Linked DNA regions of Homo sapiens. The protein of the gene in region 1 interacts with the protein of each later gene in a biochemical or structural test. Each region holds a gene or a part of one and is shown in the gene's direction. Other genes may lie near its edges.

Evidence for each region.
Region 2: the proteins of FBN1 (region 1) and FBLN5 form a complex in vitro, tested with the Homo sapiens proteins (one study listed by IntAct).
Region 3: the proteins of FBN1 (region 1) and VCAN form a complex in vitro, tested with the Homo sapiens proteins (one study listed by BioGRID).

What each region holds. Positions count from the first base shown.
Region 1 is NC_000015.10:48,470,877-48,474,709, reverse strand, and holds part of FBN1 (fibrillin-1 isoform a preproprotein), read left to right. Parts: intron 1-59; coding exon 60-182; intron 183-332; coding exon 333-455; intron 456-2,033; coding exon 2,034-2,159; intron 2,160-3,833.
Region 2 is NC_000014.9:91,945,830-91,949,429, reverse strand, and holds the start of FBLN5 (fibulin-5 isoform 1 precursor), read left to right. Parts: upstream 1-1,735; 5' UTR 1,736-2,200; coding exon 2,201-2,217; intron 2,218-2,397; exon of another isoform or gene 2,398-2,651; coding exon of another isoform or gene 2,652-2,719; intron 2,720-3,600. UniProt on the Homo sapiens protein: Essential for elastic fiber formation, is involved in the assembly of continuous elastin (ELN) polymer and promotes the interaction of microfibrils and ELN. Stabilizes and organizes elastic fibers in the skin, lung and vasculature.
Region 3 is NC_000005.10:83,516,543-83,520,375, forward strand, and holds part of VCAN (versican core protein isoform 1 precursor), read left to right. Parts: intron 1-2,806; coding exon 2,807-3,833. UniProt on the Homo sapiens protein: May play a role in intercellular signaling and in connecting cells with the extracellular matrix. May take part in the regulation of cell motility, growth and differentiation. Binds hyaluronic acid.

The sequences.
Region 1 (3,833 bases):
TTAAAAACCAAAAGACATTTGTGCTGAGCCTTTTTCTAAATCACTGCTCATTTTTCCAGACATCAATGAATGTGAAATTGGAGCACACAACTGTGGCAAACATGCTGTATGTACCAATACAGCAGGAAGCTTCAAATGTAGCTGCAGTCCCGGGTGGATTGGAGATGGCATTAAGTGCACTGGTGAGTAGGAAAGTAACAGAGGTTGCTTATCAAGGACTGCATAGATTACACATATGAAAATATTAATTATGTAAAGTTATTTTAATTTGTGTATTATTGGTTTTAAATACCACCCTTTCTGTTAATAATGATATAACCTTTTTCTATAAGATCTGGACGAATGTTCCAATGGAACCCATATGTGCAGCCAGCATGCAGACTGCAAGAATACCATGGGATCTTACCGCTGTCTGTGCAAGGAAGGATACACAGGTGATGGCTTCACTTGTACAGGTATGTTCACGCTGGAAACAACTGTGTCAACACTAGTCAGAGAAGCCAGGCATTCCACATTTCTCAGGCTAGCAATTCTTTTTTGAAGACTGGGTCAGTTAATAGAAAAGATTCATCATTTGGCACTAGAGCTCTGTGGGAAAAAAAAAATTGGAACCAGGTCAATTAGGGAGACCTCAAAAGCTTCTCGATAGGTAGATACGTAGGTAGATAGATAGATAGATAGATATTTAGGTGCCATTATCACATCATTTACAGTGATCTGTGCTCTAACATAAAATGATACCAAAAAAGTCATACCATTCTCCACCTCAAGTCAGCTAGGCCTTATAATAGTTACAATTGGCATATATATCATTATATGACTGTATATAATGATGTCATTAGTTTAAACAAATCATACTTCCTTTTATATGCCTAGCCTTTATTTATTATTATTTTTTTTTTGCCTATTTCTCACCAATGACTTCCTTTCTGTACCAACACAAGGATAAGCTTGCTGTAGGGAACTATGTAAGGAGAAGGGATTAGATGTTCTAGATTAGAAGAACAGTATGTATTTCTCTCCAACAGGCCATCATCATCATCATTATCGTCATCATCAACATTCCATATTGGTATAAGTAAAAATTTCAAACCTGCTATGGAATTCATTCACTTCCAGTTTTGCAATAATATATTAATGAAATTTTCTTTTTGGCTCTAATTAATAGCCATAGAATTAACATAAACTTCTATACACATGTAAACATACATGATTAGACTTGTCATTACATAAATTATACATATACTTACATGTGCATATATTTACAGACAGCACTTTTTATATCAGAGCTCTGGAGTTAAATAAAATAATAAGATCCATTAGCCATTAGGTCGCATAGCTGCTCCTATAACTTAAAACATTGATTTATCCTGAGCACTTTGTTCATAAAAAGTCATTTAAGCACAATAGAGGCTAAGGCTCATTAAGTGATTTACCTGGAATTTTTTTTTATTCCCTGAAAGTTTTATCTCAGATGAAATCATTTTTGCCTAACTTATTGATGTTTTGTCATCAAAAACCTCCCATCATTTTGAGAACATATTCAAATTCCATGTATTAGGCATGTGTGGTTTATGTGTTTGATATTTAAATGCCTGTGATTATTAAGAAAACTAGGTAGAGATTAAGCAGATGGAATTTTTCTTCTCCCTATGGTTGCCATTCTTTTGCACTTTTGGTGCCCATCTAAGCTAAGCCTGAAACTTGAGAAATAGACACAAACATGATGTGTCATTTCCTGTCATGGGTGTGCCCTCCATGCGGATGACCCTTCTTGAACAGGCCTTAGTTTGCATGATTCCTTCGGCTTATTCATTTTATATCATTCAGGGTAAATTATCATTCAGGATTCTGAATCAGCCACATGTAAATTTCATATTCAGTGTTAGCCTACCAAAGAGAAAAATAAATGACTTTAAATGTGTCAAATTGAAGTTATGCCAAAACATTGCTGCACTGGAAAGTTGATAGACCTGAGGAATTAGAAAGCCCCTAACCGAGGAAGAGTAACGTGTGTTTCTTTCTGGCTGTAGACCTTGATGAGTGCTCTGAGAACCTGAATCTCTGTGGCAATGGCCAGTGCCTCAATGCACCAGGAGGATACCGCTGTGAATGCGACATGGGCTTCGTGCCCAGTGCTGACGGGAAAGCCTGTGAAGGTAACTGATGGGGAAGCCACTGGGAGCCTTGCTGGGCTTGATGAGATTAGGTTATTTAAACATTCCTGATGCTTTTTTTTTTTTTTTTTTTTAAACTGAGGTGTGTTTTAGCTTCATTTCTAAGCTGGTCAGTTCAGTTTGTAGAGGGATTAGGTTTCCAGCTGACCATTTCTCTTGCTGCACAGAAAACCTCAGCTGACTGGCCACAAGCTGTACATCCAGCCTTGGCCGCATGGTCTGCAAGGGTGTATCCATTGGTCAATGAGGGTAACCAAGTGTGGTTAAATCAGTGCAACCCATTTATCCCTACGGAGGGGGATGCAACCTGTTAATCCCTACTGAGGGAGAAAAGAGCTGAAAGTGCAAGTTCCCTGATAATGTCCTGTTGTGGGATTATCACTAAATATGGAAACACAGGTTTTAATCTCCACTGTATTTGGTTTGTAGAAATAAAAGCAGAGCAAATAGTCTTGTCCATACGTAGAATGGTATGTCTCACATTTGCTCTAAATATCTAACATATATGAACATGGAACAGTTTTGCAAATCTGTTCAATAGGGGACCCTTGGGATACTGCCATATGGCATGGTATCGCTCAGCTTTAGGCTCTGTCATTCTGATAAGTGTTGGTCAGACACGAAGAGTCCTGGGAACCTGTTAGCTAAGGCTGGATCCCATTAGGGAACACAAGATTCTTCCCTTTACCCACATTTGTCAAATTTAAGCACATTCTCCTTCATTGAAAAGAAGATTTCAGTAGAAATAAACAAATGATAACGATTGTCAGTAGAAGTTTAAACAAGACCCTGATTAATGTATTAGTTAATAGTTGTTCCTTGTTAACAAGACGTGAACTCAAAATCAGTCATTAGCTATGACATGTATACTAATTCCCTCATGTATTTTTATGTGAATACTTTTCTTTGTTATGGAACCGTTGGGTGTTCTTTATACAGTTTATATTAAATATGCAGAGTTTGATATAAAACTCCTTGGAGTCAAGAAACCAGATTATGCTCTTGATCATGTGCCTAATACCTTGTTTACTTTTGTTACTCCAAATATCCAAGGAAAACAGGTACTGTGCCACCTCTGGTGACACAAATAGTCACAGTGAAAGTTTTGCTTCTCTTATTGCTATAAGAGAAGGTTTTGTTTGTTTGTTTGTTCTTAATATAAATCATGGCTGGTGGAGTGGTCATGGCTATTTAAAGCTAGTCTCAAGCCTGAAAATGTGACTGTGTGTCAACTGCACACGAAGAATGTTAACAGGAGGCAGAGACAGAGGCCTGGAAGAAGCGTGTGCGGTTTTCCAATCTCCGTCAACAAAGGCAAACACATGCCATAGGACTAGGGACACTGGAGATTATGCAACTAATTATGACAGTTCCCTGAAAGACATTGTGGCTTGTGAAATTTTAATTCACAACAAAAACAGTGACTACATAGATAGATTAAAAAAAAAAAACGAATTTAGCGTAAGGTGGCTTGCTTGCCTCTTACTTTACGAAAGTGATGTGGACCTACGTGGAACACTACAAATGAGATATGTATCTATAAAATGCTCAGCCCGCTGCTTGGCATGTAATAGAGACTGAGGAAAAGTAACCTCTCACCTACGAGACTTCACTGTGCATGGCAAATCATCTAAAAGTCTATAGGAGAAGTGCCCA
Region 2 (3,600 bases), on another chromosome or scaffold:
AGCCTCCAGAACTGGGAGAGATAAATGTTATTGCATAAACCACCCAGTCTATGGTATTCTGTTATAGCAGCCTGAGCTAAGACCAATAATACTCATGGTTTCTTGTGCATCCTTCAGGTGATGTCTTTTCTGTACGTGTACAAGCAAGAACTTATGTATTTATTTTTTTTCCCACAAATGATGGCATGCTTTACACACAGTTCTGCAGCTTACTTTTTACATTTATTACTATATTAGATCAATCTATGTGAAATTACCAATATTCTACTGTTTTGACCCACAAAATATATTGGAAACCCTTCAATAGCAGTGCATACGGAGCTGTTTCAGTCTTTTTTTCAAAATAAGATATAACATACATAAGACTTCACAAATATTAAATGTACACACCCCTACATAACCAGCATCCAGATCAATCATTAGATTATTACCAGCACCCAGAAGGGGCTGGGCTGCCTCCCAGTCACTATCTGACTTTGAATTTTATATAAATGGAGTCGTTTGATGTGGACTCTTAAGTGTCTAGGTTTTAATTGGTTGCACAATAGTCCCTTTGGAAGCCCCTTACTTTATTTAACCCTATTGGTGCCTTGCTGATCGACCTTAAAGGTGTTTATAATCTTTTGCTTTTACAAACAATGGGGGGATGAACAACCTTATAAACATAAGGTATTTAAAAAAGTGTTTTACAGGAAATTTCAAACACGTAAAAGGAAATAGATTAGACTAGTATAATGGACACAGCTTCAACAACTATCCACATTCTGTTATTCTCCTTTGGGTAGAATTCCATTTACTTACCCCCAAAAATGCCTTAGGGAAGGCTAAATATGTAGACTCCAGAGGCTCAGCTGTACCAATGAATAGCTGCGTGACTATGGGGAGGTTACCTAACCTCTCTTATCTTCACCTCTAATAACATGGAGATGATCATTCCTACTGCTTAGAGTGGTGGTGAGGACAGGGGACCTGGATCAGGGCTTTTCGGCTGCAGGTAGGAAGATGCAGGTGGAAGCAGATGGGATAGGCCACAGTCCATCCACTGGCGTTTTATAGAGTGAGTGCCTTCTGTAAGATTTCATTGACAAAAGTACTCCAATGGCTTAAAAACAAACAAACAAACAAACAAACAAACAGGAAAAAGAAACAGGTTGAAGCCTCCACTAGAATGAATGCAAAGGACTCAGCATGTCTTATGTGCTGTCTCCACCATTCTGCTTTTCCAGACTGTCCCTTCTTCAAATCACCGTTTAACTTGTTAAAATCACTTTCGAGCCAGGGGACACTTTTCCAGGAAAGCGAGAAAATGCCAGGGAGAATCGGGGAATGAGGGCGGGGAGAGAAAAGCGTCCTAAGACTTGCATTGCACAAGCTGAAGTCTGGAATTCGCACCAGCGGGATTCCATCCTCTTCCCCCCCACCCCACCCCGCTGCTCCCCACCCCTTCTTCGGGAAGATCGCGACTCTCCCGTCGCTCGCCCCAAGCCTCTGCTTCGTAGGTTCTGGTTTCCCAATCGATCGTGAGTTTCTAGTCCCTGGAGCTGCGTGGGTCGTGAGTTCAAGTCCCTTTCCTTCCGGAGGCGACAACGTTCTCGCGGGTCCCCTTGCCACGCAGCGCGGGCGTGCACGCCCCTCCCCGCCGGGCCGCGCTGCCAGCCCCGCCCCGCCCCTGGGTGGGAAGGTCAAGGGGCCCGGGCCCTCCCAGCCCCCGCACCCCTGCGCGCGCCCGCCCCTCGCCTTCTGCCCGGGCGCTCGCAGCCGAGCGCGGCCGGGGAAGGGCTCTCCTCCCAGCGCCGAGCACTGGGCCCTGGCAGACGCCCCAAGATTGTTGTGAGGAGTCTAGCCAGTTGGTGAGCGCTGTAATCTGAACCAGCTGTGTCCAGACTGAGGCCCCATTTGCATTGTTTAACATACTTAGAAAATGAAGTGTTCATTTTTAACATTCCTCCTCCAATTGGTTTAATGCTGAATTACTGAAGAGGGCTAAGCAAAACCAGGTGCTTGCGCTGAGGGCTCTGCAGTGGCTGGGAGGACCCCGGCGCTCTCCCCGTGTCCTCTCCACGACTCGCTCGGCCCCTCTGGAATAAAACACCCGCGAGCCCCGAGGGCCCAGAGGAGGCCGACGTGCCCGAGCTCCTCCGGGGGTCCCGCCCGCGAGCTTTCTTCTCGCCTTCGCATCTCCTCCTCGCGCGTCTTGGACATGCCAGGAATAAAAAGGTGGGTTCTCGGCGCTGGACTTTTCTTTCTCCAGGGTCTGGAAGCCTTGCTAAAAATCCGATGGGTGGAAAATGGTTATGGCTGCGATTCAGGCGGTGTCAGGATATTGGAAAAGGCATGAGCTAGTGATGCAATGATATTGTTAATTATAAAAAGCTGCGCCTCTGTAATTTCCATCTTGAAGCGTTCTTTTGGGAGTGGGTATTTTCTAATACAGTTTCAAAAGCCAGCATCAGAGAGGGCTGCGAAATTCTCAGCGCTTCATTCCTCTTTCTTTTCTGGAAAGGGCAGCAACTTTGTCGTTTTAAGGGATTTTTGTATGTATTTTTTAAATTTCGGGAGGCCAATTACTAGTTCACTAGCAATTACTGCGCCGCATCGGCTGATAGACAAGCAGACAGGCTAGCTGAACACCGCGGGGCTGGATTTGCTCTATGTTTGTGTGGGATTCTCACAGAAGTTTCAAGCCAATGAGAAGTGGGAACTGCAGACAGAGATACATGTAAGCAAATGTTTTGCTATTCTTTAAGGAAATTGCAATTACAGTTAAGTAATCCTTAAGTCTTGGAGAACTTTACCTAAATGACACCCACAGTCTTTATTCAGCGAGCTCTTGAAAACATACTGCTTTGAACAAATTAACCTTGTGTGCGTATGTATGTGTCTGTGGGGTGTGTGTGTGTGTGTGTGTGTGCTGAAAACTAAGCTGTAACAATGTCATCCTGGATTGGGGACCAGCACTTCTGTGACAGGCAGTCCTGGTATTTGGTTGGTCTCTCCGGCTTTCCTTGTGTTTCAGGCTGAGGCACAACACCGGCGAACCCACCTGCTTTAGAAAGTTCCCAGGACCGGTTATGAGCACCAACCTGCCTCCCCCCAGCTATTCTTATAGTTAGTTCATTTTTGGAGTTTCCAGGGTTTTTTTTTTTTAATCACAAGGTGCAGCTATTCGTGATGCTGTGAGGCAGTAGTGCTTGGGTATTCTTTCATTTTAGGAAAATCCTATTAGCCTGGAACCTGTTTGGCCCCCAGGACTCAGCTGTGGCTCTTCCAAGAGGCTGGGCTTGAGGCAAGACCTGTCCCAGGGCTGCCTCTAGCCAAAGGGAATGGGGCTGCGGGGAGTAGGGGGAAAGATGGGGTTAGCATGCCTTTTCAACTAGCTCTTGAAGTCCACTGTGTTGCAGTCAGCCTGTTCTTTCTCCAACATAAACGAGACAGGGTTTTATAACCAACTGAAAGGAAACTTCATGTGAAGAAACAGGAAAACATTGAAATTCATAATACACAGACTGGAAAATAAATTTGTTATTGTTCTTTCATTCCTTCCAGATATAAATCTGGCCATGGCAAATATCAAAAAGCCCTGGGATTTGGCTCTGCACT
Region 3 (3,833 bases), on another chromosome or scaffold:
ACAAAAATGCCATAAGTACAGTGATGTGAAACATCTGTGGGCAGACAGCTGCAAAGGTTGGAAAGGAACTTTTGTGGGAAAAGAATCGTGTTGATTTATGTTGGCTTCCTCAATAATAAAGTTGAAGGAATACTGGTAGTTTTCCAGAGCCAAAACTTCTCCATGTGAATGCACCTATTGGAAGGACACTGTTAGAATAATCTGGAATTGTTTTTACCTTTACAATAGTCATCAGAATACAGTGGTATTTATTCTTAAAATATCTCTTCGTAGATATTGTGCTTTATAAAATTATTTCCTTTTGTGGAATGGTTGAAACAAATGGCACAAATCCTCAGATACACTGACTTGTGATCAAAATCAGCTGTTAAGTTGATGAAAAAGCCACCCAAACTGAAAAGGAAGTCTGAGGTTTTCCATTCCAAGTAGTAGAATTAATTAACTTAATTATAAGCAGACCTTTTCTTTTTTAAAATAGGGCTCTAAAATTATTGAAAACCCTTGTTTTTGGAAACAAAGTCACATAAATACTGGCTTTCTAGAACAGATTCTCTAGGACATATTGCTACCACTTTATTACACAGCAGGACTAGAGGAAGGAATGCAACAGCAAACTCCATAGTAATAATTGACAATGAAATCTAGTTATTTAGTTTTAAAAATATGAGTCAACTTTTAAAACACTATAAACATATTTTCATAGCATTGTAGAAAGTTGCTAGCAGAGAGCTTGGATTGGAACATAGGAAGCCTGGATTCACAGCCCCTTTGGCCCTAATGCAATTGTACCTGTTTCTAAGTTAATTTCATCAGCCAAGGAAATACTCAGAGGGAAAAAGTAAATTTAGCTTTTTTGTTGTTATTAATAATAATATGATTAAATTTTCTCTAATATGCTGTTTGCTAAGTATTTATATTATGTTTCCATGGGAACTTTTTCTGTATGTATCTTTTTACTATTTCCCCAAAGAATGCAGTTATAAGACAAACATGAAATTTGGCAGTTAAATGAAGTAATGGTTATGGAATTTCAGAGGATAGAGAATTGAATTAAAATAGTCATCCACATTTTGGGTTTTTAAGTTGTTCATGTCAATCAAAATAGAACAACGCTTCTTCCAGGAAATGAATGTAGAAAAAGCTTTTCTTTAAAAAGGGGAGGAAAAGGTTATTTAATGTTTTTAAACTCCAACTCTTTTTTGGTTAGTTTTGTTTTAATATTAGAAAGATAAATAATGACAGACTTTAAAGAATATTTAAATGTATCATAATGTAAATAGCCCTCAAATGTTCATGATAAAATCAGTGAAGCTGAGCTTTAAAATGGTCTGGGGAATGACCACAACTAATAACAGCTCGTGCCAGACAAAAAATAAGGAACCTGTTACAGCCCTAGTCTGATTTACAATAAAATCACATCATTTTATGATTAAGTTTTTACAGAGCAAATGGAGCTAAAAGGTAGCCTGTTTTGTTTTTTGAGGGCTCCTGTTCTGGAATTATTAAAAATAAAAAAGAAGATACTATAGATACTATGGCTATTACACCTCTTTTCAGGGCAAACAAGCATTTACTCATAAAACTAGCTTTAAGTCCTATAGGATGTAGCAAAACAATAACTACAGGTTTCTTCAGGACAGTTCTTTTGAGTTCAGTGGCAACTATTAATAGGTTTTTATTTTTAAAAATACTGATTTTTATTTTAAAAAAACAATCATTATATAGTAGGCTGCTGCCTTTTCCCTGTGTTGAGAAAGAATCTTGTTTACAAACTGTTGCTTTTATACACAATTTAAATTTCTTTCAACAGGCCAGGCCATTCTCTGTAAATCTGGAGCCATTATAATGCAGCATTTTATGATGACAGGTTACTTTATATTGCCTGAGCCTGTTCTTTCTGATGCTTAGGGTTGTTCCCAGTGATTTGTAATTACAGACCTAAAATACATTATGTGGGTACTTTACTTCCTGTTCTACATTTGTGTTTCAGGCTAAAGTAAGCCTGGAAACAAGATCCTTAGGAGATACAAACAGAGTGTGTAGAACATAGAACAAAATGTAGAACTACAACAAATGCCGACTAGCCTCTGCCAGGCACATTTTATAATTTATTAGAAACAAATCTACACCATGAAGTTGAAAGAAGGATGAAGACAAATGTCCAACACCTGGGATCAAGTGAAGAGTGGTATTAAAAAGTTTTAATATCCTGTTTTTATGAAAGTCTCCACATTATGGACAATGTAATGGTTTATATGTAACTTGGATACATTTCATGTGGCTTTTTTGTTGTTTTGCAATCTGAGACACACCCTCTCCCCTGAGATAATATGCAGCAACTTGAAAAGAAGGGAGCATGTGGAGAAAGCTGGAGACAGGGTACAGAAGCCTCCAGAAGAATAGTACTAAATTCTCCTGCGAGGCTTCAAGTTGACGCTGTAGTTTCTGGTAAATAAACAATCTACTGTATCTAAAATCTGCATTTATATTTTTGGGAGCTTTTCCTTATCTTAAAACTACATAATATTAATTTTCCTCAACTGGTAACAGTCATGCATACTTTTAGGTAAAAGCAGTGATAACCCTTATAACGTAAAACAACTGATCAATTTATGACTATTAAGTGTTCAATTATCTGTCCTTGGGTTAATTCAAGTATAGTTTTAAGACTCCTCTCCATCACAGAACATTTCTGGGCCACCCAAAAATACTCCCTACAAAATACTCAGGAGCACTTAACAAACACTGGGCATACAAGTTTTTATTAGTGACTTGTCTAATCAACTCTTTGAAATTATTTTTCTAGCTAAAGAGGCTACAACCATCGATTTGAGTATCCTCGCAGAAACTGCATCACCCAGTTTATCCAAAGAACCACAAATGGTTTCTGATAGAACTACACCAATCATCCCTTTAGTTGATGAATTACCTGTCATTCCAACAGAGTTCCCTCCCGTGGGAAATATTGTCAGTTTTGAACAGAAAGCCACAGTCCAACCTCAGGCTATCACAGATAGTTTAGCCACCAAATTACCCACACCTACTGGCAGTACCAAGAAGCCCTGGGATATGGATGACTACTCACCTTCTGCTTCAGGACCTCTTGGAAAGCTAGACATATCAGAAATTAAGGAAGAAGTGCTCCAGAGTACAACTGGCGTCTCTCATTATGCTACGGATTCATGGGATGGTGTCGTGGAAGATAAACAAACACAAGAATCGGTTACACAGATTGAACAAATAGAAGTGGGTCCTTTGGTAACATCTATGGAAATCTTAAAGCACATTCCTTCCAAGGAATTCCCTGTAACTGAAACACCATTGGTAACTGCAAGAATGATCCTGGAATCCAAAACTGAAAAGAAAATGGTAAGCACTGTTTCTGAATTGGTAACCACAGGTCACTATGGATTCACCTTGGGAGAAGAGGATGATGAAGACAGAACACTTACAGTTGGATCTGATGAGAGCACCTTGATCTTTGACCAAATTCCTGAAGTCATTACGGTGTCAAAGACTTCAGAAGACACCATCCACACTCATTTAGAAGACTTGGAGTCAGTCTCAGCATCCACAACTGTTTCCCCTTTAATTATGCCTGATAATAATGGATCATCCATGGATGACTGGGAAGAGAGACAAACTAGTGGTAGGATAACGGAAGAGTTTCTTGGCAAATATCTGTCTACTACACCTTTTCCATCACAGCATCGTACAGAAATAGAATTGTTTCCTTATTCTGGTGATAAAATATTAGTAGAGGGAATTTCCACAGTTATTTATCCTTCTCTACAAACAGAAATGACACATAGAAGAGAAAGAACAGAAACACT